Homo sapiens: one gene and its partners. The protein of the gene in region 4 purifies or fractionates together with the protein of the main gene of each other region. This does not show direct contact. Each region holds a gene or a part of one and is shown on either strand. Other genes may lie near its edges. The genes, in order: HSDL1, GALNT7, SPTLC1, SLC35F6, KDSR, PCYOX1 and OXA1L.

The links.
Region 1: the proteins of SLC35F6 (region 4) and HSDL1 purify together in Homo sapiens (affinity purification with mass spectrometry; one large-scale study listed by BioGRID and IntAct). This does not show direct contact.
Region 2: the proteins of SLC35F6 (region 4) and GALNT7 purify together in Homo sapiens (affinity purification with mass spectrometry; one large-scale study listed by BioGRID and IntAct). This does not show direct contact.
Region 3: the proteins of SLC35F6 (region 4) and SPTLC1 purify together in Homo sapiens (affinity purification with mass spectrometry; one large-scale study listed by BioGRID and IntAct). This does not show direct contact.
Region 5: the proteins of SLC35F6 (region 4) and KDSR purify together in Homo sapiens (affinity purification with mass spectrometry; one large-scale study listed by BioGRID and IntAct). This does not show direct contact.
Region 6: the proteins of SLC35F6 (region 4) and PCYOX1 purify together in Homo sapiens (affinity purification with mass spectrometry; one large-scale study listed by BioGRID and IntAct). This does not show direct contact.
Region 7: the proteins of SLC35F6 (region 4) and OXA1L purify together in Homo sapiens (affinity purification with mass spectrometry; one large-scale study listed by BioGRID and IntAct). This does not show direct contact.

The regions. Positions count from the first base shown.
Region 1 is NC_000016.10:84,121,432-84,125,504, reverse strand, and holds the end of HSDL1 (inactive hydroxysteroid dehydrogenase-like protein 1), read left to right. Parts: intron 1-776; coding exon 777-875; 3' UTR 876-3,364; downstream 3,365-4,073.
Region 2 is NC_000004.12:173,311,203-173,315,506, reverse strand, and holds part of GALNT7 (N-acetylgalactosaminyltransferase 7), read right to left. Parts: intron 1,550-4,304; coding exon 1,331-1,549; intron 1-1,330. UniProt on the Homo sapiens protein: Glycopeptide transferase involved in O-linked oligosaccharide biosynthesis, which catalyzes the transfer of an N-acetyl-D-galactosamine residue to an already glycosylated peptide.
Region 3 is NC_000009.12:92,052,537-92,056,840, reverse strand, and holds part of SPTLC1 (serine palmitoyltransferase 1), read left to right. Parts: intron 1-1,346; coding exon 1,347-1,436; intron 1,437-4,304. UniProt on the Homo sapiens protein: Component of the serine palmitoyltransferase multisubunit enzyme (SPT) that catalyzes the initial and rate-limiting step in sphingolipid biosynthesis by condensing L-serine and activated acyl-CoA (most commonly palmitoyl-CoA) to form long-chain bases.
Region 4 is NC_000002.12:26,773,491-26,777,794, reverse strand, and holds part of SLC35F6 (solute carrier family 35 member F6 precursor), read right to left. Parts: intron 3,545-4,304; coding exon 3,472-3,544; intron 2,752-3,471; coding exon 2,580-2,751; intron 2,332-2,579; coding exon 2,119-2,331; intron 1,424-2,118; coding exon 1,313-1,423; intron 1-1,312. UniProt on the Homo sapiens protein: Involved in the maintenance of mitochondrial membrane potential in pancreatic ductal adenocarcinoma (PDAC) cells. Promotes pancreatic ductal adenocarcinoma (PDAC) cell growth. May play a role as a nucleotide-sugar transporter.
Region 5 is NC_000018.10:63,357,005-63,361,308, forward strand, and holds part of KDSR (3-ketodihydrosphingosine reductase), read right to left. Parts: intron 2,789-4,304; coding exon 2,732-2,788; intron 1-2,731.
Region 6 is NC_000002.12:70,271,031-70,275,334, reverse strand, and holds part of PCYOX1 (prenylcysteine oxidase 1 precursor), read right to left. Parts: intron 377-4,304; coding exon 165-376; intron 1-164. UniProt on the Homo sapiens protein: Prenylcysteine oxidase that cleaves the thioether bond of prenyl-L-cysteines, such as farnesylcysteine and geranylgeranylcysteine. Only active against free prenylcysteines and not prenylcysteine residues within prenylated proteins or peptides.
Region 7 is NC_000014.9:22,769,296-22,773,954, reverse strand, and holds the end of OXA1L (mitochondrial inner membrane protein OXA1L), read right to left. Parts: intron 4,165-4,659; coding exon 4,021-4,164; intron 3,763-4,020; coding exon 3,677-3,762; intron 3,495-3,676; coding exon 3,330-3,494; intron 3,151-3,329; coding exon 3,046-3,150; intron 2,938-3,045; coding exon 2,775-2,937; intron 2,688-2,774; coding exon 2,607-2,687; intron 2,522-2,606; coding exon 2,397-2,521; 3' UTR 913-2,396; downstream 1-912. Other genes in the region: SLC7A7 (Y+L amino acid transporter 1), read left to right, coding at 1-22, 239-345.

The DNA of each region.
Region 1 (4,073 bases), on a different chromosome or scaffold from region 4:
GGTATTTGTTGGGATCGATTGGTGGGTATTTATTGTGATTGATTGGTGGGTATTGTGATTGGTGGGTATTTATTGTGATTGATTGGTGGGTAATGTGATTGGTGGGTATTTGTTGTGATTGATTGGTGGGTATTGTGATTGATTGGTGGGTGTTTGTGATTGGTAGGTATTTGTTGTGATTGATTGGTGGGTATTTGTTGTGATTGGTGGGTATTTGTTGTGACTGGTGGGTATTTGTTGTGATTGATTGGTGGGTATTTGTTGTGATTGGTGGGTATTTGTTGTGATTGGTGGGTATTTGTTGTGATTGGTGGGTATTTGTTGTGATTGATTGGTGGGTATTTGTTGTGATTGCTTGGTGGGTATTTGTTGTGATTGGTGGGTATTTGTTGTGATTGGTGGGTATTTGTTGTGATTGATTGGTGGGTATTTGTTGTGATTGCTTGGTGGGTATTTGTTGTGATTGGTGGGTATTTGTTTGATTGGTGGGTATTGTGATTGGTGGGTATTTGTTTGATTGGTGTGTATTGTGATTGGTGGGTATTTGTTATGATTGATTGGTGGGTATTTGTTGTGATTGGTGGGTATTTGTTGTGATTGGTGGGTATTTGTTGTGATTGATTGGTGGGTATTTGTTGTGATTGGTGGGTATTTGTTGTGATTGATTGGTGGGTATTTGTTGTGATTGGTGGGTTTCATGTGCTGGTCTGTGTACTTGTTCCTTCAGTGTTGATTTTGGGTTCTAACCTTACAACCTTTTTCTCTTTCATTTTTAGTTTCTTTTTGCACAGTATATGCCTGAATGGCTCTGGGTGTGGGGAGCAAATATTCTCAACCGTTCACTACGTAAGGAAGCCTTATCCTGCACAGCCTGAGTCTGGATGGCCACTTGAGAAGTTTTGCCAACTCCTGGGAACCTCGATATTCTGACATTTGGAAAAACACATTTAATTTATCTCCTGTGTTTCATTGCTGATTATTCAGCATACTGTTGATTCGTCATTTGCAAAACACACATAATACCGTCAGAGTGCTGTGAAAAACCTTAAGGGTGTGTGGATGGCACAGGATCAATAATGCCTGAGGCTGATTGACGACATCTACATTTCAGTGCTTTTTCCCTAAGCTGTTTGAAAGTTACGCTTTTCTGTTGTTCTAGAGCCACAGCAGTCTAATATTGAAATATAATATGATTTGTCAGGTCTTATAATTTCAGATGTTGTTTTTTAAGGGAAATTGACCATTTCACTAGAGGAGTTGTGCTGGTTTTTAAATGTGCATCAAGAAAGACTACTGAAAAGTATTATTTTGTAACTAAGATTGCTGGTACTATTAGGAAAAATCTGTGTGTATTGTATAGCTCTAGCTGTTTGACTATCTGTAATGAAAATGCTGCACTTCAACTGGTATTTCATTAGAGAACCGTGTGTGTGCGTGTGTGTGGTGCCTTTGAGCAACTTTATTTATGGTTACCATATTTTTAAAAAGATTTTTTGTCAGGGTGACTTAACATGGACTCTTATAGGGTATTAAAACAATCTAGATTATTCCTTTTCATCCTAAATAAGCCTACCAAATTTCATGCTGTTGGTTTGCCATGAATGATATTACTTCCTACATTATATTTGTGTTTTTTCAAATCTGCTATGGAATGAACTTATTCCTAGATTTGGATATGTAAGAGAAACCTGCAGTCATCTTTTGATTTATAAGGCAATTCTTGTGGATAAATAGTGATTTCTCAGCCTCTGACCCATTTTATAACTGAAATTTAGCCCTTTAGAGCTTGTTATATCTGGTTTTCCTACGTTTTTCTATGTAATATTATTCCATTCCAGTAGCATTATTGATAGAAATAGTAAGTATTTATGGAATAGTAAAATATGGACAAATTACGTGTGTGACATATCTGTCAATATAAGTTAGAAGCTTATTCTTGGTTTGTGTAATGAATTTATGTATTGTAGTGAATACCTTTACTGGTGTGAAGATAATTATGCACAAACCCTCACAATACGCGTTAACATTGAAACCTGTGAAATGTCCTTAGTTTGGGTCATATAAAGCCAACCATTTTTGAGGACCATGTACCTAGTGCTTTGAAAACTCTAAGTCACTATATGAATATGACAATATGTGCACATTTAAAATTCAGAGCTCGGCATTGTGATACTGATGCAGAAGCTAGTAGATTGGTTAAAAGTCTGGACTTCTGTGGCATTTTTTTCGTGACGTGATAATCTATCATAAGCAGACCTAAGCACAGTTTTATGAACACAATTTTGCCCATGACATTGCCTACAGGATTTCCAGATGTGACTTGCACTCAGAAGATCAGTGGTCAACTTCAGAAGCTCTTCCACGCTTAGATCATGTCTTCAGAACTTAGATGTGAAAATCTACACACTGGGAGATGCTGTGAGCCCCAAGGTTTTGATGGAGTTTGCTTGGAATCCTCTTGACTTCATGCCACATTGACGTGAACTTTGATGTATAATAAGCAGCAGCAACTTCATGTGAAAATATGGTCAGGTAGTTATATGTAAGGTTACGTGGTCCAGTAATGTCTTAGATTGATAAATTAGGTATGGAATCCATCAGTGTTACGTGATGAGAATAGGTGAACACACCTTGTCAGTGATGATGTAAACTTCTCTCCTTGGCAGGACATGGGCAAACATGCTGATTGGTGCAAATGTGGTGCCGAGCTGTCCATAGCTGCAGTGAAAGATGAAGAGCAAGACCTTCTCTAGGTTTTCTAGCTTTCATTAAATGTATTTTTTTCCCCAGAGCTAATTTGAAAGTTGATTGGACCACTGTGGATGGGGTGTCATTAAGAATGTGGGAAATAGGGGCCGAGTGCGGTGGCTCACACCTGTAATCCCAGCAGTTTGGAAGGCCAGGGCAGGTGGATCGCTTGATCCCAGGAGGTCGAGACCAGCCTGGGGAACACATCCTGTCTCTACAAAAAATACAAAAATTAGCCAGGCAGGGTGGTGCATGCCTGTAGTCCCAGCTACTTGGGAGGCTGAGGCAGGAGAATTTTTTGAGCCCAGGATGCAGAGGTTGAAGTGAGCCAAGATCGTGCCACTGCACTCCAGCCTTGAGACAGAGCGAGACCCTGTCTCAAAAAAAAAAAAAGAACGTGGGAAATATGAACCTTTGAAAGTTAATCTGTGAATTGAAAGTTTAACAATAAAAGTAGTTGTTTGTTTCCTTTGGAAGAGTTTTGTTCCAGATGTTTGTAATTTGGTTGTTTGTAATTTGGAATGAGAGAATTTTTTTTTCTTAGGAGTGATTGCAAGAAATTAACATGAACAACAGTGGTCATAACTGATTAAAAGCTGACACGTCAGTAACAAAATTGTTTATAACTATGTGCCTAGTCTTTGGAAGCTACTGGGTTGACTTCTGGATCTCTTTCTCTTGGTAGGTTGAGTAAGGTGAGGATTGATTTGAGCATGGAATTTGGCTGTGTGGATGGAGATCATTGGTGATTTTTTTCCATGAGCCATTTCAGTCTTCAGGCTAGAATTGTAATGGATTCAAGAAAGAGTGGGAAGAAGAAAAAAAGGGAAGAGAGCAGATAGAGACAGCTCCTAGGAGACTTTCCTGTGTTTTCCTATCCTCAATTACTTAAAATCTAATCACATTTGGGAACCAGAGGGTTAGATGGTTATGTCCTCAAAACCTATTCCAGTCAATTTATGTCTCAGTCTCAGTATTGGCTTATGTGTTATTTATCTTTTTAAAAATTCATATATGTTTAATGAGTATAAAGCCAAGCACAGGACAGTCGTGAATTCAGTAGAAATATTCTCTGTTATTCCTGGCCGCGTGCAGTGGCTCACGCCTGTAATACCAGCACTTTGTGAAGCCGAGGCGGGCGGATCATGAGGTCAGGAGTTTGAGACCAGCCTGACCAACGTAGTGAAACCCCGTCTCTACTAAAAATACTAAAATTAGCCGGGCGTGGTGGCGCGCCCCTGTAATGCCCGTTGCTCAGGAGGCTGAGGCAGGAAAATCACTTGAACCCGGGAGGCGGAAGTTGCAGTGAGCTGAGATCGCACCAC
Region 2 (4,304 bases), on a different chromosome or scaffold from region 4:
ATTCAGTCCCATGAAACGACCTACCTGCTGATGGCCCCAAATGCACATCTCCAGAGTGGCCTCTCTTCTGGACTTTGGCATCATACAACCTACAATCTATGATCAGTAGGCCTTAATGGCTCTACCTGGACGCCTAGCAGGTACTTCACATGCCCAGAACACCAACAGAAGCCTTGCCCCCTCCATTCACTCCCCTACTATCTTCCCAATCTCAGCAGCCACCTAATCAGCTACTCAAAACAACCTCGATGTCATTCTGGCCCTTATCCCTTCACACACCAACCCATAAGGAATCCACTCCCAGATGAACTATGCTTCCGCAGTTGGTCAGCTTCCCTTCATCTCCACTCTCTGATTGGCTGACTCTTTATCATTCAGATCTGAGAGCGAATGTCACCTCCTCAGAGAGGCTTTCCTTACCCTGCCCTTAAGTCCTCTTGACAGTATTATGTGTCATTATCATTTATCACCATCTGTCATTATCATTTTTGTTTTCTCAGACTTTTTTGGTCTCTCTCCCCAGGTAGCATGCCAGTTCCCTGAGAAAAACGACTTTGCTTCTCTGGTTTTCTGTCTAGAAGAGTGACTGGCACATAGTAGGCCCTCAACCAATATTTGCTGAACATAATTAAGCAGAGGGATGTAGACTTGAACGTTCATGGCAGGTTTAGTGTACCTGTGAGGCATACAGCGGGGCTGCAGGGAGCAATCAGAAGTGAGTCTGAAGACAAGTTTGAATAAACAAAGAAATGACAATGTCTGATTGTCAAAGTGCTTTTGTCTGATTTTAATTATTTTTAATTCATTTGAAAAGCATTGTTGGAGTATCTACTGTATATGGGTCCCTGCATCAGTCCACCTGGACACAAGTGATCAAGGTCCTGAAGCACTCAGACTGGTTGGGAGATAGGTGATTTTGGGTGTTGTGAGAACCCCTGGAAAGAACATAGAACTGCATCTTTTTGATGAAGTGGGGAATAGTAAGAAGGGCTTTTCAGTATTGGTGATCTCTAAGTTGAGAGCAGTAAGATAAATTGAAATTAGTTAAGGAAGGGAGTTGGAGTAAGAGGCATGGAGGCGCCAGGAGCTGGAGTGAAGAGTGGATGTCTTGCAGGCTAGGGGGCCAATGAGCAAAGGCTGCCAGGAGACAGCATGGTGGCCAGCTGGTCTGGCAGCTATAGCTGTTTAGTGGAAAGGTGGTAGATCCTATCAGACAGTTTTTACCCCAACTTTTCCCCAAGAATACTTCCCTCTTACATATTTCCACCTCTCTCTGCCTTCTCCCAAACTCAGTCTACAAACACATACATTTTGAGATGTGACTACTTACTTCTCCCCAGTCAACATTTTTGGGTGGCAAAGGGTAGTGTGAGGTGATATCATAAGCTATTTCTTCCATGAACCACTTAAAACTTTTGCAGTTGTGATCTTCTCGAAATTTTTTCAGCTCCGATATATCCCCATATGGTAATGCCTGCGATTCAGGACGACTAGCATAGAAGTAGTCTTTATATTCATCCCACCAAACCTCCACAACTCTAACATAATTCTGTAAAAAAAAAATATATATATATATATCGTTATAAAAATACAAATGTCATATCATAAACAGCCTATATTAGACACATGAAAATGGCCTACACATAACAAATTCATTTCAACAGGACCTGGCATTTAATTAAACAACAAATGCAAGTTAATGACTCTAATATGTCATCTGCCAAGGATTAAAATATCATGTGTATTTAAGTAAAAAGTATTGTACAAAACCTGATATCCCTGAGCTGGAAGATCATATATGCTGAGATAATGTATTCTATTCTGCTAACAGAAGAATAAATTGAATCTCAGAGAGAGTTTATGAGAGCTTGGCTGGACACTGTACTTCTTTCCCTATAATAATCTCTTTCTTTTCTTTTCTTTTTTTTTTTTTTTTGTGATGGGGTCTTGCTCTGTCATTCAGGCTAGGGTGCAGTGGTGCAATCTTGGCTCATTGCAGCTTCAACTTCCTGGGTTTAAGTGATCCTCTCACCTCAGCTTCCCGAGTAGCTAGGACTATAGGTACATGCCACTATACCTGGCTAATTTTTGTTATTTTTTTGTGTAGATGGAGTCTCATTCTGTTGCCCAGGCTGGTCTCAAACTCCTGGCCTCAAGAGATCCTCCCACCTCAGCCTCCCAAAGTGTTGGAATTACATGTGTGAGCCACTGTGCCTGGCCTACAATCTCTTTCTATTAGAATCGTTCTGTTGATAAGTGTAGGGAAAAAAATATCATTTCAGAAACCATCATGAGAAACAAAAGCTCTGTTTAATAAAACACATTTTTGCAGGTGATTTTATTGATCCTGTTATAACTATAATAGAACTATTTTACTATAACCCCAAATGGACTGGGTATTTTCCCCAGTTGGTTCCTTTCTTTAATTTAAAAAAAATATATATTTTTGAGATGGAGTCTCACTCTGTCACCAAGGATGGAGTGCAGTGACGCAATCTCGGCTCACTGCAACCTCTGCCTCCCAGGTTCAAGCGATTCTCCTGCCTCAGCCTCCTGAGTAGCTGGTATTACAGGTGCCCGCCACCACACCTGGCTAATTTCTGTACTTTTAGTAGGGATGGGGTTTCACCATGTTGGCCAGACTGGTCTTGAACTCTTGACCTCAAGCAATCTGCCTGCCTTGGCTTCCCAAAGTGTTGATATTATAGGCGTGAGCCATTGCCCCCGACCCCAGTTGGTTCACTTTAAGAAAAAGCAGCTATAGAGCAATAAAATATGCTGACACTGTGATAGCTGACAAATATCTAGCTTTTAAAGCTTTAATTGATGAATGAATGGTTGCATGAATATATGTGACCAAATTGGTACACACTTGAGTGATAATTTGCATGTGATTTGTCTCTGCCAACATTCATGTTGAAATGTGATGCCCAATGTGGCAATGCTGGGAGGCAGGGCCTGCTGGGAGGAGTTTGGGTTGTTAATACATTAATGGCCTCCTATGGAGGTGAGGGGGTGAGTTCTTGCTCTCACAGAAGTGGATTCGTTCCCACAAGAGTAGTTTGTTAAAGAGTCTGGCTTCCTTGGTCTCTCTCTTGCTTCCTCTCTCGCCATGTGATGATCTCTTTGCACATGTGCATTCCCCTTCTGCTTCCCATCATGAGCTGAAGCAGCATAAGGCCCTCACCAGATGTAGCTGCCCAAGCCTGAATTTTCAAACCACCAGAATCGTGAATAAATAAACCTCTTTTCTTGATAAATTACCCAGCCTCAGGTGTTCTGTTGTAGCAACACTAAATGAACTAAAATAATACTCAATCCCTTAATCTTGTACATCATGCATCAGCAAATATTCTCTATAAAGGGCCAGATAGTAAGTATCTTGGGCTTTTTGGGCTATACAGTCTCTGTGGCAACTATTTGACTCTGCTATTGTAGTGAGAAAGTAACCGTAGATAATACACAAACAAATGAGTGTGGCTATCTTCTAATACAACTTGATTTACTAAAAAGGGTTGGATTTGGCCTGTCAGCCATGTGGCCGACCCATGTTTTACATTCAAAAAAGAAATACCTAGTGTTCAGATTAAATGTTTTCTAGGCAACAAGATAACTATCAAAGGGTGAACATGCCCCTAGATGCATTGTTGTCACAAAAGCCCATGGGTTTAAAAAAAGCTGTTATAAGCAGCATGATAAAAGAACATACGATATTACCACTTGATATGGTTTGGATCTGTGTCCCTACCCAAATTTCAGGACCAATTATAATCCCCAATGTTGGAGGCGGGGCCTGGTGGATGGTGACTGGTTCATGGGGTGGATCCTCCATGAATGATTTACCACCAGTCCACCCCCCACCCCCATGCCCACACTGTCCTTGTGACTCTGAGTTCTTGTGACATCTGGTTGGTGAAAAGTGTGTAGCACCTTCCTGCTTCTCTCTCTTGCTCCTGCTCCCACCAGGTGAGACGCCTTGCTCCCCCTTTGCATTCCACTATAATTGGAAGCTTCCTGAGCTTTCTTAGAAGCGGAAGCTGCCAAGCTTCCTGTACAGCCTGCAGAACTGTGAGCCAATTAAACCTCTTTTCTTTATAAATTACCGAGTCTCAAGTATATCTTTATAGCAGTGTGAAAACAGACTAATATACCACTAAACATTCTGAATCTTTGCAAATCCATACGAAATTAGACACAGTACATGTACTCTAGACATGAACAAACCTGAAGAGTTATGTATACACATGTAAGATTATGGCAACAAAAAGAAGGAGCAATTAGTTTTCTCAGATGGACAGGGCCAG
Region 3 (4,304 bases), on a different chromosome or scaffold from region 4:
CAACATCAGTGATATGTACTTTTTATTCCTCAACAAACTTTTTTTTTAGTGCTACTGCTGTGGGTTGTAAAATACCCCTTAAAGCATTGCTCTGATACTTTCTAATTCTGATCATTTCTAATTGTCCATTGGAGCAGAAACTTAGAGGCAAGAGATCTCTGAGTAAGAAGGTAATGGCAAACTCTATCTGTGGATCTCAGTATTTTTTGCAGTCCCACACACCTGAACCATGTACAGTTTCATACATGTGGGAGATTTATTAGTGACTTGCTCTGAGCAGAGTGTGTGAAGGTGTGTGTTTTTTGAAAAGATCTCTGCCGGGCGTGGTGGCTCAAAGCTGTAATCCCAGCAGTTTGAGAGGCCGAGGTCAGTAATCAAGAGGTCAGGAGTTCAAGACCAGCCTGGCCAACATGGTGAAACCCCATCTCTACTAAAAATACAAAAATCAGCTGAGCGTGGTGGCGGGTGCCTGTAATCCCAGCTACTCGGGAGGCTGAGGCAGAGAATTGCTTGAACCCTGGAGGCGGAGGTTGCAGCGAGCAGAGATGGCGCCACTGCACTCCCACCTGGGTGACAGTGAGACTCCATCTCAAAAAAAAGAAAAGGAGACCTCTCTACCCCACCACCTGGGAACATCATTGGACAAGCTCATAGTCAAATTTTACTTGATCCGATAATACATCAGTGGGGAGTGAGGAGGGAACAGGGTTGCCCCTTTTTTTGGGAGGTGAAGGAAAACGGTTTGAGTTTTTTAACTTTTTGTTATGGAAAAATGCCAACATATAAGAAGGAAACACAGTGGTATAGTGAAGCCCCCTGTACCCTTCTCCCAGCTTTGTTATCAGCATTACATCATTCTTGTGCCATCTGTTCCTCACCCCATCTTCATGATGATGACCTTCATTATAGTTGTTTTGGGTAAAATTGACAGACATTGAATCACATGAATGCAGCCATACAATTTTGACCAGTGATTATACCCATGTAACCCAGGAATGTCAGCCCCATTATGATGTAAAACATTCCCATTTCTTTAGAAAGTCCCTTAGGCCCCTTCCCAGTTGGAGGTTTGGAGGGTTTTGTTTGTGTTTTAATATTCTCAGAGGGCCTAATTAGTTTGTGTGTGTGGCGGGTCACCTAGCTAATGCTGTGAGCTGAAAAACGTCTGAGAGAAGATAGTACTGTTGTTCATCTCAAAATAACCCATCACAAACACTGAGCTTTCAATTCATTCAGAATATTTTTTTAGGAATAAATCTTGTAAGGTGAAAGTGCTGGGGAATATGTAACAGATCTTGTCTTCAGAGTTACTGAAATGTAAGATGTCTGCTTTTTCTCTTTTAAAGAATCCTCGCAAGGCTCGTGTAACTCGGCGTTTCATTGTAGTAGAAGGATTGTATATGAATACTGGAACTATTTGTCCTCTTCCAGAATTGGTAAGCAACCATGTTCAGCTGTAATTTTAATATTTGGACTATTTGACAGATGTGCCTTTTGTTTATGACCGCTTTTAGTGTATAACGTCTGCGTTGCTTTGCGCATTAGGCCTCATAAGCATATTTTGCTCAGATCAGGGAAGAAGAACAACACTGAATGCCAGTGCTGGCCTTCAAAGAGTAATCAAGACTGCTCTGTTGCCCAGGCTGGAGTGCAGTGGTGTGAACACAGCTCACTGCAGCCTTACCCTCCTGGGCTCAAGTGATCCTTCCACCTTAGCTTTCTGAGTTAGCTGGGACTACAGGCACATGCCACCACACCTGGCTGATTTTTCCCTTTTTTGTGGAGTAGGGGTCTCACTGCGTTACCCAGGCTGTTCTCAAACTCTTGGGCTCAAGCGATCCTCCTGCCTCAGCCTGCCAAAGTGCTGGTATTACAGGTATGAGCCACCACACCTGGCCAAAACTTAGCTTTAGCTTTTTTTTTCTCCCCCGCAAGACAGTCTTGCCCTGTCGTCAGGCTGGAGTGCAGTGGCGCCATCTTGGCTCACTGCAACCTCCTCCCCGAGGTTCAAGCAGTTCTCCTGCCTCAGCCTCCCGAGTAGCTGGAACTATAGGCGTGCGCAGACACCCCCAGCTAATTTTTGTATTTTTAGTAGAGACGGGGTTTCACCATGTCGGCTAGGATGGTCTCAATCTCTTGACCTCATGATCTGCCCGCCTGGGCCTCCCAAAATGCTGGGATTACAGGCATGAGCCACTGAGTCGGCCATACGTAGCTTTTAAGATCCAGCTTTATTTAGGTGAAATCAACGTATAAAATACACCTACTTTAAGGGTAAAGTTTGATAAGTTTTGACAGATGTATATACATCTGTATCACTGCAGCCATCCACCACCACAGTCAAGATACGGAATATTTTTATGTAAGACAATGTTTATCCAGAAAGAAAACTTTATCCAGAAAGCTTCCTGATGCCTCTTGGTAGTGAGTACCCATGTTGGCCCCAGACAGCCATTAATCTACTTTCTATTCCTGTAGATTAGTTTTACCTTTTGTAGAATTGCATATGAATGAAAGCATAGCTTGCTTTTTTGTTTTTTTGTGTTTTGTTTTTTGTTTGAGATGGAGTTTCACTTATGTTGCCCAGGCTGGAGTGCAATGGCACGATCTCGGCTCACCGCAACCTCTGGCTCCTGGGTTCAAGTGATTCTCCTGCCTCAGCCTCCCAGGTAGCTGGGATTACAAGCATGTGCCACCATGCCCGGCTAATTTTGTATTTTTAGTAGAGACAAGGTTTCTTCATGTTGGTCAGGCTGGTCTTGAACTCCCAACCTCAGGTGATCCACCCTCCTTGGCCTCCCAAAGTGCTGAGATTACAGGCGTGAGCCACCACGCATGGCCAAAACTTAGCTTTTTAATAGTGAAAGCAGCATAACTGTTTTTAGAAACCATGACCATTGAGATTTCCTTTATTGAGGTGAAATTCACATAACACAAAATTAACCAATTTAAATTGTACAGGACAGTGACATTTATTACATTTACCATGTGTGCAACCATCAACTTTAGGTCAAAAACCTTTTCATGACTCACGAAGAAGACCTCAAACCCATTAAACAGTCACTCCCCATTTTCTTCTCCCTCTAGCTCCCAGCAACTACCAATCTGCTTTCTGTCTCTATGGATTTACCTTTTCTGGTTATTTCCTATAAATGGCATCATATAATATATGACCTTTTCTTTCTGGCTTCATTCACTTGATGTTTTTAAAGTTCATTAACATTGTATACCATGTATCAGTATTTCATACCTTTTTAATGCTGAGTTATAGTCCATTGCATGGATAATACCACGTTTTGTTTTATATGTTCATCCACAGATGGATATTTGGGTTCTTTCTACCTTTTTGCTATTGCAAATAGTGCTGTTGTGAACATTTGTGTACAGGTATTTGTTTGAATTCCTGTTTTCAGTTCTTTTATGTATATATCTAGCAGGGTAATTGCTGGATTATATGGTAATTCTGTGTTTAACTTAATAAGGAACTGACATACTGTTTTCAACAGCGATTGCACCATTTTACATTCCTATCAGCTATATACCAGGGTTACAGTTTCTCTACATCTTTGTCAGCACTTATATTTTCCAGGGTTTTTTGTTGGTTTGTTTTAGCCACCCTAGTGAGCATGAGGTAGTATCTCACTGTGGTTTTGATCCTGTTTCCCCCAAATGGCTAATGATGCTGAGCCTCTTTTCTTGTTTTTTTTTTTGTTTGTTTGTTTGTTTGGCCATGCGTATACCTTTGGAGACATATCTATTCAGGTGCTTTGCCCATTTTTTAAATTGGGTTGTTTTTTTGTTTTTAAAAGAATTCCTTGTATATTCTGGATACTAGATGTTTATCAGATACATGATTTGCAAATATTTTCTCCTATTTTGTGGGGGTTTGTTTCATTTATTTGATACTGTCCTTTGACACACAGTTTTTAAAAATTTTGATGATGTCCAGTTTATGTGTTTTGTTGTTGCTTGTGCTTTTGTGTTTTATTTTAAAATCTTTGTTTAATCTGGCCGGGCACGGTGGCTCACGCCTGTAATCCCAGCACTTTGGGAGGCCGAGGCAGGTGAATCATTTGAGGTCAGGAGTTCGAGACCAGCCTGGCCAACATGGTAAAACCCCGTCTCTACTAAAAATACAAAAAAATTAGCCGGGTGTGGTGGTACACGCCTGTAATCCCAGCTACTCGGGAGGCTGAGGCAGGAGAATTGCTTGAACCTGGGATGTGGAGGTTGCAGTGAGCCGAGATCACGCCAGTGCACTCCAGCCTGGGCAACAGAGCGAGACTCTGTCTCAAAAAAAAAAA
Region 4 (4,304 bases):
TGACCCAGTACACGTGTGCACAGGTTCATGGACACACACACACACACACACTCATAAAAACATTACCCTTACAGTATACAATGCTCTGATATTTAAAAATTCTATTCATTTAAAAAAAGAACTGCCAGCTGCAACTGACTACATTATTTTCACAAGTTTGGAAAAACACAGCTTTCTAGTTCAGTGTGTTACTGGTCTGTGACAAGGAGCTTGCGCCAGAAGGTAAGTCCATGCACTGCTTCACTCATTAAGGTCTTGCTAGAAAACAGAAATGAGTGGAAATAGACTGCATGCTCAGTGATATAGCTAATTCACATTCTGCCTAAGTCCCTTAGCTCACCGGGGGCCAGACAAGAGCTGCTCCCCAACAGGCACTAGCCCCCAGGACATTCTTTGAAAGCGCAGCTGTATCTTGCTAATCTCATAATTTTGATACTTACTTCCCTGCTCAAAAACTTTCAGTGATTCCTCCGTCATTTAAAGTCTAAATCTACTTGCCTGATGGTAAAGTTCTCTAATGACATGACCCTGACCTACTTAATTCCTGATTATTTCCCCAACATCAAACCTATACTGCACTCAAATTATTATTTTTTGAGATGGAGTCTCGTTCTGTTGCCCAGGCTGGAGTGCGGTGGCGCAATCTCGGCTTGCTGCAGCCTCTGCTCCCCCAGTTCAGGCGATTCTCCTGTCTCAGTCTCCTGAGTAGCTGGGACTACAGGCATGCGCCACCACGCCCAGCTAATTTTTGTATTTTTTGTAGAGACGGTTTTGCCATGTTGGGCAGGCTGGTTTCAAACTCCTGACCTCAAGTGATCCACCCGCTTTGGTCTCTCAAAAGTGCTGGGATTACAGGTATGAGCCACCGCACCTGGCCACACTCAAAATTATTCCTCACTGGTTTTCAAATTCACATCCAGTCCCCTGTGCCTTTGCTCTGTTTGGAGCTGCTCCTACTACTGCCTGTTGAAATTTGCAGCTCGAATGCCACCCTCCCTGCCCTGAGAGACTCAGATAGGCATGGCCAATGAGACATCAGTTGAGCACAAGTGGTCCAAACTTGAATTCACTGACTGCCCTTTCTTCCTGCTGGTCACCTCCTCTGAAGGGCTTGCATCTCATTCATCTCTGTCCTTGGTCTCCTCTAGTTCCTGACACAGCAGGTGTCAGAAGACTTGTCAAAACACATCTGGAAGGCAAGGCGGGGCAGGAAGTTCACCCCCCACAAGTGAACCCTGGCACCTTGTCCTGTGCTCAGCTCCCCAGGCTCCCTTCTACCCCACTCCTTCCAGGCCCCTGTGCCCACACACACCCTCAGTGCCAACTGCCCGCAGTGGGTGCACATTGTGTTTGTAGACGAACTTCTCCTCTAGCACCATCTGGATGGCAACGATGATCTGGGCCATGATGATCAACAGGTCCCCTGTGGGGAAGGAGGGACCCAGATGAGAACAGGGCTGCACTGGGGCTGGGGGCCAGGAGAGCATGGCCACAGCGACCAAACATGCCAGCCCCTGACCTCTGCAGGGCCCCCTATAGTTCATAGGCACAGTCACCACTGCCTGTCCCTGATTCCCTGGTTCCTGAGGGGCATGCCAGCAGTGCCAGGCTAAGGCCCCAGAGGCCTGCCTGTGTCTAAGAGCTGCCCCACGGGGTATGACGCAGGTCTTTCAAGAAGCAACAGGCTTTGAGATAGACATTTCTTGGTTGATCCTGACCCTAAGTGACCCAGGACAGTCATTTCATTGTAAAATGGGCTGTGATGCATCCGTTTGGGGCCTGTGGGAGTCACTGTGATGATGAACACACAGTGCTCAGCACCAGGCTGGGCACTTGGTAAGCACCTGTTCCTTTCCACTCCCAAATCCAGTAGTTTGCATGTCTGCATCTGTATCAAAGGACAAGCCAGCCCCTCGCCCTGCCCGGCCTGCCACTCATCCTTGGTGGAGCCACATCCCTTTGCAGTCTTCCCTACATTCTATCCATCACCTCCAGAGCTACCCACCTCACCCAGGGCTTGGTATATGGCACATGGCAGAGCTTGTATGAGTCTGTGCTGGGCTCCCAAGGAGGACAGGGCAGGATAGGGCAGCCCCGTGTCCCTGCCCCTGGCCGCACCTGTGATCACTTCGCTGAGCTTGTGCTGACTGTCGTGCTTGCTCAGGAGGTCAGCCAGGCCCACGACCACCAGCCCCGCGATGGTGGCTAGGATGCCCAGCCACTGGCTCAGCACCAGCCTCCGGCCCAGGAAGGCCACCGAGAACAGGCCAGTGAATATGATCACTGCACCCCGCAGCATCTGGAAGCTGGAGGCACTGGTCATGTTCAGAGCTAGGAAAGGAGAAACAAATTACAGTTAGCTTCCCAAGGCGAAGGCCATCTGTCACTAAGGGGTCTTTGGTGATAGACATGCCAAGCTCATAGTAAGCGCTCGATCAGTCCTGCCTGTGTGCCTGTGCGTGTGAAGTCTGGGGGAATGGTGGGATGAAGTGGAGGTGGGTGGGATAGGGCTGTTTCACCAGTAGCCCCTTCAGCCACAGCTTCCCCTGAGCCCTTCTCAGCCTGGCCTGGTTACTCACCCACATACATGAGGCTGGTCCCTGTCATGTCACAGAGCGCTGGGGGCAGGAAAAGAAGAGGGTTGAAGGGCTGCTGGGGGTCTACGCTGGAGTCTGATTGCCCTGCAGCTCTGCATCGGAGGAGGTAGAAGGCAGCCAGGCAGGAGAATTCTCCCAGGAACATGCCCACTGCCTGCAGGGATGAAAACCCGAGGACTTCAGAGCTGGAAGGGATCTCGGGGATCATCTTTAACTATTTTTTTTAATGCAAACTTTTGTCAAACAAGAGCTTACCCAGAACCCCAATATGTAAAATAGACAAATGCAGAGCTGCCATGGAGGCTAGAGACAGCCTCCTAGGTCTGCCCCAAAGCCCCCATACATCCTGATGAACCCTAAGGCTGTGCAGAGCCCTGTCTGAAAACCATCCATCTAGGCCAACCCCTAGTCAAATCGCAGGTGGAGAAGCCTAGACCCAAGAGAGGCTCAAAGACTTATGTAAGGCCACAAAGCAAGTTGCTGGTAGAGCTGGGGCTGACATTTGAGTCTCCTGATTCTCAGTTCAACGAACAGTGTCTTCCATTTATGGTGTCTGCCCTGTCCCAATTGGGGTCTGGGCTCCCAGTGGATAGAGAGCTGACTTTTGTCACTAGGGCTGATGTTTTCCACGTGTCCTGACTTGGATGTGGTGAGGACATGACCACTTGCCAGGACTTTCGCAGAGGATGGTGCTCTTTGCCCTATTCTAAACCTTGGATTCTGCTCTGGGGAGGGAAAGAGAGAAGTGGATGGCTCTTCTGGGAGCAGGAGACACCTCCACTCCTAAGTCAGGAAACAGCCTGGCCTCATGGCCGGGGGTGGCGCCTGGTCTGAGGCCCGGGAGACAGGAGGTAGGAGGGACAGGGCCAGATACCTGGAGGAAGGGATGCTGGAAGCTGTGCTCCTTGCTCCCTCCACAGCCCTCGGCCATGAAATTGTCCGCCCATCTGTAGGAGAGAGAGGGAAGGTCAGACCCTGTCAGCATCCTACCCTGGTGCTAGTGAAGAGGCTCACACCTCTCAATGTCAAGAGGCCCAGACCTGGGTGACCCGGCCCCAGAGTGGGGCTCCCTCTCAAAGGGGTCAGTCTTCACCTCAAGGAGTTTTAACTTGGCATTTCCTCAAGTCACTGTGTCTGTGCCTCTGTAATGCACAGAAATCACAGATACTCTCATGATCACATTACAGTCATTGTATATATCGTGAGGTATCATTTACACTCATCACTCATGAACATTACAGTAGTCAGACCCACTTATAACAATGTAGTAGAAAGCATTTCTATATAGCTGGGCGCAGTGGCTCACGCCTGTAATCCCGACACTTTGGGAGGCTGAGGTGGGTGGATCACTTGACGTCTGGAGTTCGAGACCGCCTGGCCAACATGGTGAAACCCCGTCTCTACTAAAAATACAAAAATTAGCCGGGCGTGGTGGTACAAGCCTGTAATCCCAGCTACTCAGGAGGCTGAGGCATGAGACTCACTTGAACCTGGGGGACAGAGGCTGCAGTGAGCCGATATTGCACCACTGCACTCCAGCCTAGGTGATGGAGCAAGATCCTGTCTCAGAAAAAAAAAAAAAAAGCATATCTATATATATTCTATATCACGAATTTGCTTTTTTAAGTGTTTGATAACTGTATTTCAATTTAATTGACTTCTTTTGTAATCCTTGGTCTTTTTTTTTTTTTTTTCTTAATGGAGTCT
Region 5 (4,304 bases), on a different chromosome or scaffold from region 4:
AGCAGGGACCTGACGGAATAAGCTCTGGTGTACTTCAATCCTAGGCTGCAGCAATTTAAGGCAAATTTACTTAATGCACATGGAAAGATCTCTAACATTCTAGAAGGGAAAAAGTCAATGAATACCACAGTGAAATACTATTCAAAACTCATCAGAAAGGCAAAAAGTAAAAAGTCTGTCAATACCAAGTATTGGCAGGGATGTGGCGCAACAGAAACCGCATTCCTACTTATGGGAGCTTAACCACTTTGGTGAGGTTGAAGAACTGCATACACTACAGCTCTGCAATTCCATTTCTGGGTATGTACCATTCTTGCACACGTGCACAAAGAGAATACTGAAAGCTTTTCTAATAGTAAAAAACAAAACAAACTAACAAAAATACTGGGAACAAACTAAATATCCACCAATTGCTGAACTGATGAACAAAATGTAGTCTATACATACAATAGAATACTACGCAGCAGTAAAAAAAAAAAAATTTACTCCAACTTTTTGCAGCAACATAAATGAATTTTTAAAATTATATATATATATACACATATATATACATACATACATACATACATATATATATATATATATATATATTTTTTTTTGAGATGGAGTCTCCCTCTGTTACCCAGGCTGGAGTACAGCGGTGCAATCTCTGCTCACCTCAAGCTTTGCCTCCCAGATCCAAGTGATTCTCCTGCCTCAGCCTCCCTCCTGAGTAGCTGGGGTTACAGGTGCAGCTAACTTTTTATATTTTTAGTAGAGACAGGGTTTCACCACTTTGTCCAGGCTGATCTCAAACACCTACCTTCAACTGATTTGCCCGTCTCGGCCTCTCAAAATGTTGGGATTACAGGCATGAGCCACCGCACCTGGCCTAAAGAATAATATTGAGTGGTCTGGGAATGGTGGCTCACACCTGTAATCCCAGCACTTTCAGAGGCTGAGGCGGGCGGATCACGAGGTTGGGAGTTCGAGACCAGCCTGATCAACATGGTGAAACCCTGTCTCTACTAAAAATACAAAAATTAGCTGGGCGTAGTGACGCGCGCCTGTAATCCCAACTACCCAGGAAGCTGAGGCTTGAACCCAGGAGGCAGAGGTTGCAGTGAGCTGAGATTGTGCCACTGCACTCCAGACTGGGCAACAGAGCGAGACTCCATCTCAAAAATAAATAAATAAATAAGAAATAAATAATAATAATATTGAGTGAAGAAATCAAGTTGCATAAGAAGCATAAAGAAGGAAGTTATACAAATCTATAGAGAAAGAAAGTAGATGAGTGACTGCCTAGCTGAGAAGAGGCTGGGAGGAAATGGCAAGTGACTGCTAATACACATGGAGATTCTTCACGGGGTGAGGAAAACATTCTAAAATTGATTTTGATGACAGTTGCACAACTCTATGAATACATTAAAAATCATTGAATTATATATTTTAAATGGGTCAACTGTATGGTATATAAATTATATCTCATAAAGCTGTTAAAAAATAAGAATGATATAATAAAAGAAGTAGAACTAAGTATATTGGCCAGGCATGGTGGCTCACGCCCATAATCACAGGACTTTGGGAGGCCAAGGCAGGCAGATCACCTGAGGTCAGGAGTTTGAGACTAGCCTGACAAACATGGTAAAACCCTGTCTCTACTAAAAATACAAAAAAAATTAGCCGGGTGTGGTGGCACACACCTGTAATCCCAGCTACTCAGGAGGCTGAGGCAGGAGAATCGCTTGAACCCGAGAGGTGGAGGTTGCAGTGAGCCAAGATGGCACCACTGCACTCCAGCCTGGGTGACAGAGAGAGACTCTGTCTCAAAAAAAAAAAAAAAAAAGAACTAAACAATATATTATTATTTAGAGTTATGTGCATATATGGTAAAATTAAAAAGAAAAAGAGGCAGGGCACAGTGGCTCACTCCTATAATACCAGCACTTTGGGAGGCAGAGGTAGGCGGACTGCTTGAGCCCAGGAGTTGAAGACCAGCCTGGGCAACATGGCGAAACCCCATCTCTACCAAAAATACAAAAATTAGCCATGCATGATGGCACGTGTCTATAATCTCAGCTACTAGGGAGGCTGAGGTGGGAGGACTGCTTGAGCCCAGGAGGTCGAGGCTGCAGTGAGCTGAGATCGCACCCCTGCACTCCAGCCTGGATGACAGATTGAGACACTGCCTCAAAAAAAAAAAAAAAAAAAAAAAGGAAAGAAAAAAGAAAAGAAAAAGAAAGGATTAACACCAAAAATCGGGTTGGCATTTGCCCCTCTAGGAACAAGAAAAGAGGGACAAGGCTGCTGTGGGGGCTTCAGAGACCCTGATCATTTCTACTTCTTAGGCTGGGTGATGGGTGTGTGATTATTAATTTGCTATTATGTTTTATACTGAAATATAAATAGCATTTTATTCATCAAAAATTCCATAACCAAATAAATTTTAAATATTCCTTTCCTCTTAAGCATTTGTATAAAGTTCATTAAAAAAAAAATTAAAATGAAATTATTTGCCAGTAAAACATTCTGTTATTTGACCATTTGTAGATATGAATGTGTGTGGGAGTCTATTCATTTTGCGTGTGTGTGATATTCTGAGTTACTAGACCATTCAAACAATTCCACCTTTTAAAAAACAGTACATATATGCTTTCAATTAACTATTCACAGGTGAAGTAACTCTGTTTTTCCTTTATACAGCTGTGCTGAGTTATACAGAAAATGCATTCTGAAGACAGAGATTTACCTGTTTGTCATTAATAGAGTGCATTTCAATTTCTTTCTTTGCCTGCAGCAGCTTATCCTGAAAGCAATACAGAATAATTAGTCGTGATGACCGTCTATATGCATGTCCGTTTATTGCAAAGGAGAGAAAAAAAGCAATTATTTCTATATGTATGTATTAAATTCCAGAAAACACACAAAACAGTATCTACATTGCATAGACAGACTGGGCCACAGCCTATGAAAGAAAGAAGTTGTGAAGTATGTTAAGCTATGAATAAGTGATAAAAGTTTGAAAATTAATTAGAGAAAGATAGTAGAAAACAGATAAACCTCAAAATCCCAGTTAACAGTACTAATTGCTGAGGCTGACTCTACAGTTCTAATAAATGTCTTATTATTTAGTTGTGATATAAGACAAGAACAACTCTATTAATATGTACTGCTCCCCAAAGTTGAGGGTATGTGTGACTCCCTGTCAATACTGCTTTTTGTCCAATATTTTCTTCTTCTACTATAAACCCAAACATAGTAAGAATCACTTTCTGGATAGACTGGGTAAACTAGGCCTGGCTACTATAAAATACTCTTAAGCAAGGTTACCTGTGTAATTATGTAATTCTTCCAAGGTCCTAATTTTGTTTGTTTTACTTAGTCTCAAGAAAACAGATATCAGATTATCTTAATTTGCTGTAAAAAGTAACTTAAATAATATCATGCAATAGAGAGGAACCAAAGGAGAGGCGAATTCTTCCAAAAGGCATGCAGAGTTTCTAAACCTGAATATGTCTATAATGAAATAATATTGTCCTATGACTAAAGATACATACAGCTTGACTTTGCAAAGACTGGAATTAAAAATTACATTAGAAAAGAAAGAATTTCTCAGCCAGGCATGGTGGCTCACCCCTGTAATCCCAGCACTTTGGGAGGCCAAGGTGAGTGGATCACCCAAGCTCAGGAGTTTGAGACCAGCCTGGGCAACATGGTGAAGCCCCGTCTCTACCAAAAATACAAAAACTTAGCCAAGCATGGTGGCGAGCACCTGTGGTCCCAGATACTCAAGAGGCTGAAGTGAGAGGATTGGTTGAGCCTGGGAGGCGGAGGTTGCAGTGAGCCGAGATTGTGTCACTGCACTCCAGCCTGGGTGACACAGTGAGGCCGGGCGCAGTGGCTCACGCCTGTAAGCCCAGCACTTTGGGAGGCCGAGGTGGGTGGATCACTTAAGGTCAGGAGTTTGAGACCAGCCTGGCCAACATAGTAAAACCCTGTCTCTACTAAAAAAAAAATATATATATATATAAAATATATAATATATATAATAAAAATATATATTTTATATATATGTAAATATATATACACACACACACACACACAAATCAGCCAGGTGTGGTTACACACACCTGTAATCCCAGGTATTCCGGAGGTGGAGGTTGCAGTGAGCCAAGACAGCGCCACTGCACACCAGCCTGGGTTACAGAGCAAAACTCCGTCTCAAAAAAAAAAAAAAAAAAAAAAAAAAAAGAATGAATTACTCAACACCACAGGTTCTTCATTCAGTTCATTCATTTCTAGCAATGCAAGGGCCCCATATG
Region 6 (4,304 bases), about 43 Mb from region 4:
CCCCCTAAAAATGCACATCTACATACGCACAATTTTGCTAACAATGTCTGAGGTTCACAGAGAAAAGTAGCCTCCAATCCACAGCCTAAAGTCAGGAACCACCATAGCATCAGGTAAGCCCCTCTGTGAACTAATGTCCACCACTGTTTCAAGCCCTGGCTTACCCACAAAGGCATTGATGTCCGTGCTTTGGCCATAATTGACCCTCATAACAGGAGCAATCATTTCATTGAGGAACTTCTCAGAAAAGCCGGCCTTTTGCAAGGTTTCAAGAAGTGTTCGATTAAGCATTCCAAGGAAGTCATCTCCTCCTAGAGCATGAAGTAATTTTTCGACACTACTGAAGGCATAGTCATGAGACTGGTAGCGGTAGATCCTTTGGAAAAGAAGAGAAATCCATTAAATACCAAACAAGATGTGGGGAAGGGGATGTATAAAGAAGGGAAGTGGCGTCATAAGAATCAAACTGACATCTAGGTGCAGTGGCTCACGCCTATAATCCCCACACTTTGGGAGGCAGAGGTGGGCAGGTCACCTGAGGTCAGGAGTTCAAGACCAGCCTGGCCAACATGGCAAAACCCCAGCTTTACTAAAAATACAAAAATTAACCAGGCATAGTGGTGTATGCCTGTGGTCCCAGCTACTTGGGAGGCTGAGGCAGGAGGACTGCTTGAGCCCCGGAATTCAAGGCCGCAGTGAACTGTGATAATGCCGCTGCACTCCAGCCTGGGCCAGACAGTGACAGTGTCTCTTAAAAAAAAAAAAAGAAAAAAAAAAAGAAAAGAAACTAAGGAAGAAAGAAAGAAGAAGAAAAAGGAAAAATAAAAAGTAGAAGTAAGGCCAGGCGCGGTGGTTTCATGCCTGTAATCCTAGCTCTTTGGAAGGCCAAGGCAGGCAGATCACTAGGTCAGGAGTTTGAGACCAGCCTGACCAACATGGTGAAACCCCGTCTCTACTAAAAATACAAAAATTAGCTGGGCCTGGTGGCGCACGCCTGTAATCCCAGCTATTCAGGAGGCTGAGGCAGGAGAATCGCTTCAACCCAGAAAGCGGAGGTTGCAGTGAGCCGAGATCACACCGCTGCACTCCAGCCTGGGCAACAGAGCGAGACTCCATCTCAAAAAAAAAAAAAAAAAAAAGTAGAAGTAAAATACTTTGTCTAAAGGCCACATGGCAAGTATAAGGCTCAATCACAACTTGCCCACTCTGCTGTCAATCACCCACACATGCACAGTCTCCACTGGAGCACACCTGACCCATTCACTGGTCTCTAAATTTGCCCTACATGCTGTATCCCCACCAGTGCACAAGCTCTTCCCTCCAACCTGAATACACTTCCCATTCCTAACCATGGAACATCTATTCTTCCTTAACAGAACTTGAATCCCACCTTCTCTGAAAAGTCTTGCTCAACTTCCCAGTCCACAGTTATATCATCTCCAGAAGCCTCATAAAACTTAGCACCAATGCCACTCATTCAACAATTAGATGCTTTCTATTATTTTTTAGAAAACATCACTTGACCAAAAAGAAAAATATCACCCAACACTTCTCTGCATTTTATGGATTTAAAACAACATTCACATAAATTAGTGCATTCAGTAATTCAAACACAATTTTTCATGTTGCAAATAGTACAAAGATGGAAAACAGGCTTAAGTTTGGGATAAGTAATACGGGGTTTATCTCTTATTCCCTTAAGGGGCTTATAGTTAGGGATAAGTAATAAGGCACATGCAGAGATAAGTATATGAAAATAAGAAATTAAGAGCCAAGGAAAGATCCCTATCACTGATCATGGAAGGGAAACTTTCACATCAAGTTTTTCTCTCAAAATGTACTATATTTTTTTACAGAACAAGGGACAGTATTATAACCATTTCAGTATTACCTACTAAAAGCATAGTAGTAGTATAAGTGTACAAAATGTTAAACACATTTTTATTGGAAAAACTGATTCGATATCTATGCCAAAACTGAGAAACTAAATACCTTCTAACCATAGCATTTGGGTCCCAGTCTTTAGGAGACTGGAAAAAGTAGGATGGAAACACTGAATTCTTCAGAAAAATAATAGCCTGGATATCTCATATCCAAAGAAGAGTGATCTTTGGCTAATGGTCAACATGAGAAAATAACAGTCAATTAAATAAGCTACTAATGATGCTATAAAAAACATATTCCCCAACTGCTCCTGCCAGAGCTGCAACCTCACTCAAGCAAGTCTCCCTGGGAGGGGGCGGGGTGGCAGCGGTGAGATGAAACTATATACACAATATAAACAGAGAGCACTCTAATTGTTTCATGATACAACTAATCGTATTAGAATAAATACACTGCTGGGTATGGTGGCTCATGCCTGTAATCCTAGCACTTTGGGAGGCAAAGTGGGGCAGCATCACTTGAGGTCAGTAGTTTGAGACCGCCTGGCCAACATGGTGAAACCCCATCTCTACTAAAAATACAAAAATTATCCAGGTGTGGTGGTGCATGCCTGTAATCCCAGCTACTCAGGTGGCTGAGGCATGAGAATTGCTTGACCCAGGAGACAGAGGTTGCAGTAAGTCAAGATCACACCACTGCACTACACCCTGGATGACAGAGCAAGACTCCATCTCAAAAAAATAATAATAATAAATGAAAAAACAGAATAAATACTACTAAAAAACAGCACCCAGGTGAGGCAGCATGCACCTGTAGTCACAGCTACTCAAGAGGCTGAGGTGGGAGGATCACTTAAGCCCAGGGGCACAAGGCTGTAGTACATTATGGTTGCACCTGTGAACAGCCAGCCAATATACTCCAGCCTGGGTGACAGAGTAAGACAGGAGGATACCTTGAGGCCAGGAGTTCAAGACTAGCCTGGGCAACATAGCAAGACTCTGTCTGTACACAAAATGTAAAAATTAGCCAGGCGCAGTGGTTCATGCCTGTAATCCCAGCACTTTGGGAGGCTGAGGCGGGCAGATCGCTTGAGGTCAGGAGTTTGAGACCAGCCTGGCCAACATAGCGAAACCCCACCTCTACTAAAAATACAAAAATTAACTGGGCATGGTGGCGCATGCCTGTAATACCAGCTACTTGGGAGGTGGAGGCAGGAGAATCGCTTGAACCTGGGAGGTAGAGGTTGCAGTGAGCCGAGATCGTGCCACTGCACTCTAGCCTTGGTGACAGAGTGAAACTCCCTCTCAAAAAAAAAAAAAAAAAAATTAAAAATTAGCCAGGCTCCTATATAATAGATTGATCATGCACCATATCCACAGGAGGTTGGAAAAACCATGCCATTTTCTGGAATTTAAGGGTGTTGCATTATTTCATCAATCATTTGTTGACAAAAAAGAAAAACTAAAAAATAAATTTAAAATGTGAACCTTCAGGTATTGAGTAACACCTTTATCTTGGTATAGAACTGATACTTTTTTTTTATTTTGAAATATCTGATAATAATTTGGAATGAAGTAAGGTTCTGTTAAAGAAAATATATTTGAAGACCCTTTAAAGCAGTGAATCTGAAACAATTTTCACACCCTTAAGTGGTTGATACGTACCTATTTTTAGGTATTTTGAGGTATTTACCATAAACTAAATTTAGAAATTTTTTAGATTCACTTGAAGTAAACATTACAAACATTGGATACGGTGGGGTTTTCTTTAGATTTTACTTGAGAGAAGGTGAGTACAAAGCAATTTGCAGTTGTTGTAATGACAAGATTACTGCGCAAGTGTGAATCCAAACAGTATAGCTTTTAAATTTTAAAGCATTTGGTAAATTATCGCTGAGTTTTTTTCTGTTGCCAATAGCAAACTGCTTTTCCATTAATGGAGAATTCACGCCTTTCAAGCATTTTAAATATGACAATATTTATAAATGTATGGTTTGGAGGAATCGTTTAAATTCTCTTTCCTAATTTTCTTTCTTTTGAAGATAGATTCTTTCAACAAGTAATTTGTAGTAATGACTGTGTTGACTTCAATTTTGGAGCGCAGTAGCTATGTTAAAGATGAACTATTTGGTCTCATTGAAGCCAACACAGAACTTGCTGCTGTGTTTTTTCTTCAGTGATAAATAAAATACTTACAGAAAAAAAAAAAAAAAAAAATTAGCCAGGCATGGTGAGGCATGCCTGTAGTCCCAGCTATTCAGGAAGCTGAGGCATGAGGATCACTTCAGCCCCGCTGGTTGAGGCTGCAGTGAGCTGTGATCACACCACTGCACTCCATCCAGCTTGGGCAACAGAGTGAGACCTTGTCTTAAAAAAAACAAAAACAAAAACAAAAAAATAATAATTTTTAAAAAAATATAA
Region 7 (4,659 bases), on a different chromosome or scaffold from region 4:
CTTTACCTCCGAAGGATCGTGGGTAAGCCGTGCATCCTTAAGTCCGCTCAGCTATTGCAGAGCTTGGTTTTTGCCTTTTTCTGTAAATCCAGCCTCCAAAGACATCTTTGCCTTAGCCCCTTCTTATGAACCCTTCGGCTTAGTGGAATCACTCCCCTCACACTGAGTTCCATTCAGTGACACTTGAACTCAGCCCAGCTGACCTCTTCTCAATTCCAACTCAAAGTTCTCTTTGTAGGGTCTGCCACAAGGTACCTCCAGGTCCTGTGTATGTCAGTTGCTGCAGAAATGGATTTGGAAGATGGAGGAGAGATGCCCAAGCAACGGGATCCCAAATCTAACTAAACACCATCTGGAATCCTGATGTGGAAAGCAGGGGTTTCTGGTCTACTGGCTAGAGCTAAGGAAGTTGAAAAGGAAAGCTCACTTCTTTGGAGGCACCTGTCCAGAAGCCTGGCCTAGGCAGCTTCAACCTTTGAACTTACTTTTTGAAATGAAAAGTAATTTATTTGTTTTGCTACATACTGTTCCAGACTTTTAAAGGGGACAATGAAGGTGACTGTGGGGAGGAGCATGTCAGGTTTGGGCTTGGTTGTTTTAGAAGCACCTGGGTGTGCCTACCTACTCCTCTTTTCTTTTAAAAGGGCCCACAATGCTCCAATTTCCTGTCTCCTTTAGAGAGACATGAAACTATCACAGGTGCTGGATGACAATAAAAGTTTATGTTCCTAAAGTCTGAGTGGCTTCATTTTATATAGTATCTATCTCTAGGACAGCTCCCATTAGCCTAGAAACACAAAGACTAAAATCAATCTTATGCTTGAAAGTATATCCATCTTTTCTCTCTCAAGCTAGCTGCTGAAGGCTGATAAACCAGGCTCTACACAAAGGCAGACAACAGAACACTTAAACTGCTCTAGTCAAATGTTGGATTGTTACATAAAAATGACATGAACTTCCTTTTTGAGACAGGATCTTGCTCTGTAGCCAAGGCTGGAGTATAGCAGCATGATCTTGGATCACTGCAGCCTCAACCTCCTGGGCTTAAGCTATCCTCCCACCTCAGCCTCCCAGGTAGCTGGGACTATGGACAAGCACCACCATGCTCAGCTAACTTTTTAGCAGAGACAAGGTCTCGCCATGTTGCCCAGGCTGGTCTCAAATTCCTGGACTCAAGTGATCTACCCACCTCAGCCTCCCAAAGTGCTGAGATTATAGGTGTGAGCCACTTTGCCCAGCCTGGAACTTTCATTCTTAATTATCACTAAGAATTTGCACACATCTACTTCTTGAAATTTTTAAAGTAATCTTGGGATCAAGAAGTGCGGTTACTATATTTAGATACAATCTCAACATTCAACTTATCAGCCACACCTCTAGACTGCAATCCAAATGTGCATAGAACAACACATGCATGGGTTGGAAGTTTAAACTGTTTTTTTTTTTTTTTTTTTTTTTTTTTTTTTGAGAAGGAGTCTCACTCTCTTGCCCAGGCTGGAGTGCAGTGGCGCAATCTCGGCTCACTGCAAGCTCTGCCTCCTGGGTTCACGCCATTCTCCTGCCTCAGCCTCCCAAGTAGCTGGGAATACAGGCACCCGCCGCCATGCCCGGCTAATTTTTTTTTTTTTTTTTTTAGTAGAGACGGGGTTTCACCATGTTGGCCAGGATGGTCTCGATCTGCTGACTTCGTGATCCGCCCGCCTTGGCCTCCCAAAAGTGCTGGGATTACTGGCGTGAGCCACTGCGCCTGGGTGGAAGTTTAAACCCTTAATGCCAGGTTAAAACATTATATTTTCCAAGGCCATGGGCCAGCAAAAGCAATCATGACTCACTCTATTCTTCAGTTTTCTTTTTTTTTTGAGACAGTCTCCCTCTATTGCCCAGGCTGGAGTGCGGTGGTGCGATCTTGGCTCACTGCAACCTCCGCCTCTCGGATTCAAGCAATTCTCCTGCCTCAGCCTCCCGAGTAGCTGGGACTACAGGTGTGCACCACCACGTGTGGCTATTTTTGTAAAACAGCAGAGATGGCGTTTCCCCATGTTGGCCAGGCTGGTCTCAAACTCCTGATCTCAGGTGATCCACCCACCTCGGCCTCCCAAAATGCTGGGTATTCTTCAGTTTTCTGAAGTGCACACTGATTTCCCTGTTCAATAAGTATCAGGAAGCAGCATGTAGTACAGAGGTTTACTAACTCTGTGAATGGGAAGATCACTTGGCTACCCAGTGCTCTCTTATAAACATAAGTACAAGAGTGTTTCATGAAATCCGTTTTTAAAATGAACATCTCTGTGTGCCACAGTTCCTAGGACTGGGGCAAGGACACAGTGTCAAGTCTTGTTTTGAGGATGAGTCTCTGAAGAGACAGAATTCCTGCCAGAATGCGCACAGAACATAAGTCAGCCAAGTGTGTCGTGCCAGGGATACTTTGACTTTGGTTTGCTGCTGCTGCTAGGGATATTGGGAGGGTTATCCTTTCCAGGTTGTAGGAGAGGGTTGTGGGTAAAGGTCTGTCGTAAAGGACCTGAGGGGAGAAGAGAAAACAAATTTCAACGAAGAACAGAAAGGAAGAAACAAAAGACAGAATTTGGCCTGAAAGGACTATTTACCCCTGGCTGCTAGCTCCAACTGATTCCGCATGCGTTGTTCACGCTCTCGCAGCTGACGCGTCATTTCAGCATTTTTCCAGCCTGTGTAAAGAGAAGCAAGAGAGTCAGTTGCATTCCTATTTTTAGACCCCTTTCCCTAGTCCTTTTTCACAGAGGATGAGCCCTTACCTTTTTTGAAGCTCTCTAGGAAGCCTTCCCGTGGAGGTAATTTGTCCAGGTCATGTACAACACGCTGGGGGATTTTAAGTACAGTGCGTACTGCTGGAATCCGGAGACAGGATACTTGGACCAGGGAAAACAAATTGGAGGAGAGCCAGTACATAAACACTGCCTGGGTGAGAACACAGAGAAGGGACTCAGAAGCTGTATCCCTGGTCAGCTTGCTAGGTGGCTAGGCTAGGCAGAAGGCCTTGGAGCCAGCCCATAAGGCATTACATACCGTGGGGAAATGCATGGTTATGGGCAAGGTTATCAGGGGCATCATTCTGATGACATTTCTCATCCACTGAAGGTCAGAACTTTGCACACCTGTCTCAGCACCTAGCTGCCAAAAGAAGTGGGGTGGAAAAGTCGGGAAAGCTGTCAGTTTCAGTGAATCTGTCTCTAATCTCTTACCCATCAACTCTTTCTCCAGCAAGTGAAGGATGACCATTCTGTACAACTACTTTACCCTCCAACCCCAGTTCACTTTGCAGGCCTGGCACTTGGCCAATCTGGGCTTACCTCAAGAACAGCCCACATTGTAGCAGTGACTGCCAGTGGTAATATGTAGATGGGATCGGATACCGTGAGATCCTGGAACCACCAGAGGCCACCTGTCTGCAGGCTGGGCACAGGAAGGTTGGCCATCTCTCTCAAAGCAATGAAGAAGGAGATGAAGATTGGGGCCTATTACACAAGATAAACAGTGTCAGCATGCTTTACCAGAGAGAACATTTTCATCACCCCACTACTGAAAGCCATGTATAATCCACCACCACCTGTTTTTTGGGGGACCTGGGACACATGAAACACAGAGAGGAAATTTCATGGGTACTGGATGAAATAAGGAAGGAAATGTTTTTGCTCACCTGAGTCACAGGGAGAATGAGAGGTTTATAGAGTTTAATACCATGTTTTTTCTGGTAAAGTGCCATCTCCGAGGAAGCCTTGTAATCTGTGAGGTGAGGGGAAATTAATGGTTGGGGTAACAGTTACATCAGTGGAGGTGAACATCCTCATTATCTACCTGGCCTGTGAAATTTCTAACCAACCCTGGCCACTCCTTGGGAGCATTAGGTCTAAGAAACAGATAAACCTTTAGAACTTTCCCGACTGTGGCAACTTCTGATTTACATTGTTCCTTTCCCCCAGCAGAATGTAAGGAAAAGTGCAAATGTGGACTTCTCCCACGCTCATTCTGCAACTGACTCACACTCAATATGGTCTCCTGCTAACTTGGCCTCTCTGATTCGACTGGAAAACTTCTGGATCTCTGGCAAGTGATTGTGGATCCTGGCTGCCTCTCGCTGGCCCGTCACGATGAGAGGAAAAATCAGGCAGCGGGCAAAGACTGTACCTGGAAAATACAAACTAGGATTGGAGTGAAATTAAAGCAGTTCTGCAGCTAGAAGGTTGAAGGCTTTTAGGTCCTTACTGAAAGGGTCTTATTCTTGCCTTGTCCATTCTATGACTCATGCCTAAGAGGCCCAGAAATAAGGTCAGGGGAATGAATTAGTTGCTTTAAGGCTCAGTTCTCTAATTTGGCATCACAAAAGTATGGCATTAACTTCTCTAAGCAGATGATTAGGAATCCTGTTTGTTTCCTCAAACAAAAAGCTGACAGGAGTGGATTTAGCAATTATGTTACTGGCAGTTCGAATGAGGTGATATGAGTAAAAGCCAGACGGCTGAGGGAGTAAATGGAAAGAAGTAGGCTAATTGGATGCAGAGCAGTCTTTTAAGTAACAGCTATCAAAAGAATGAAACCCAGTCATCTGTGACAACGTGGATGGAACTGGAGATCACTATGTTAAGTGAAATAAGGCAAGCACAGAAAGACGAACATCGCCAT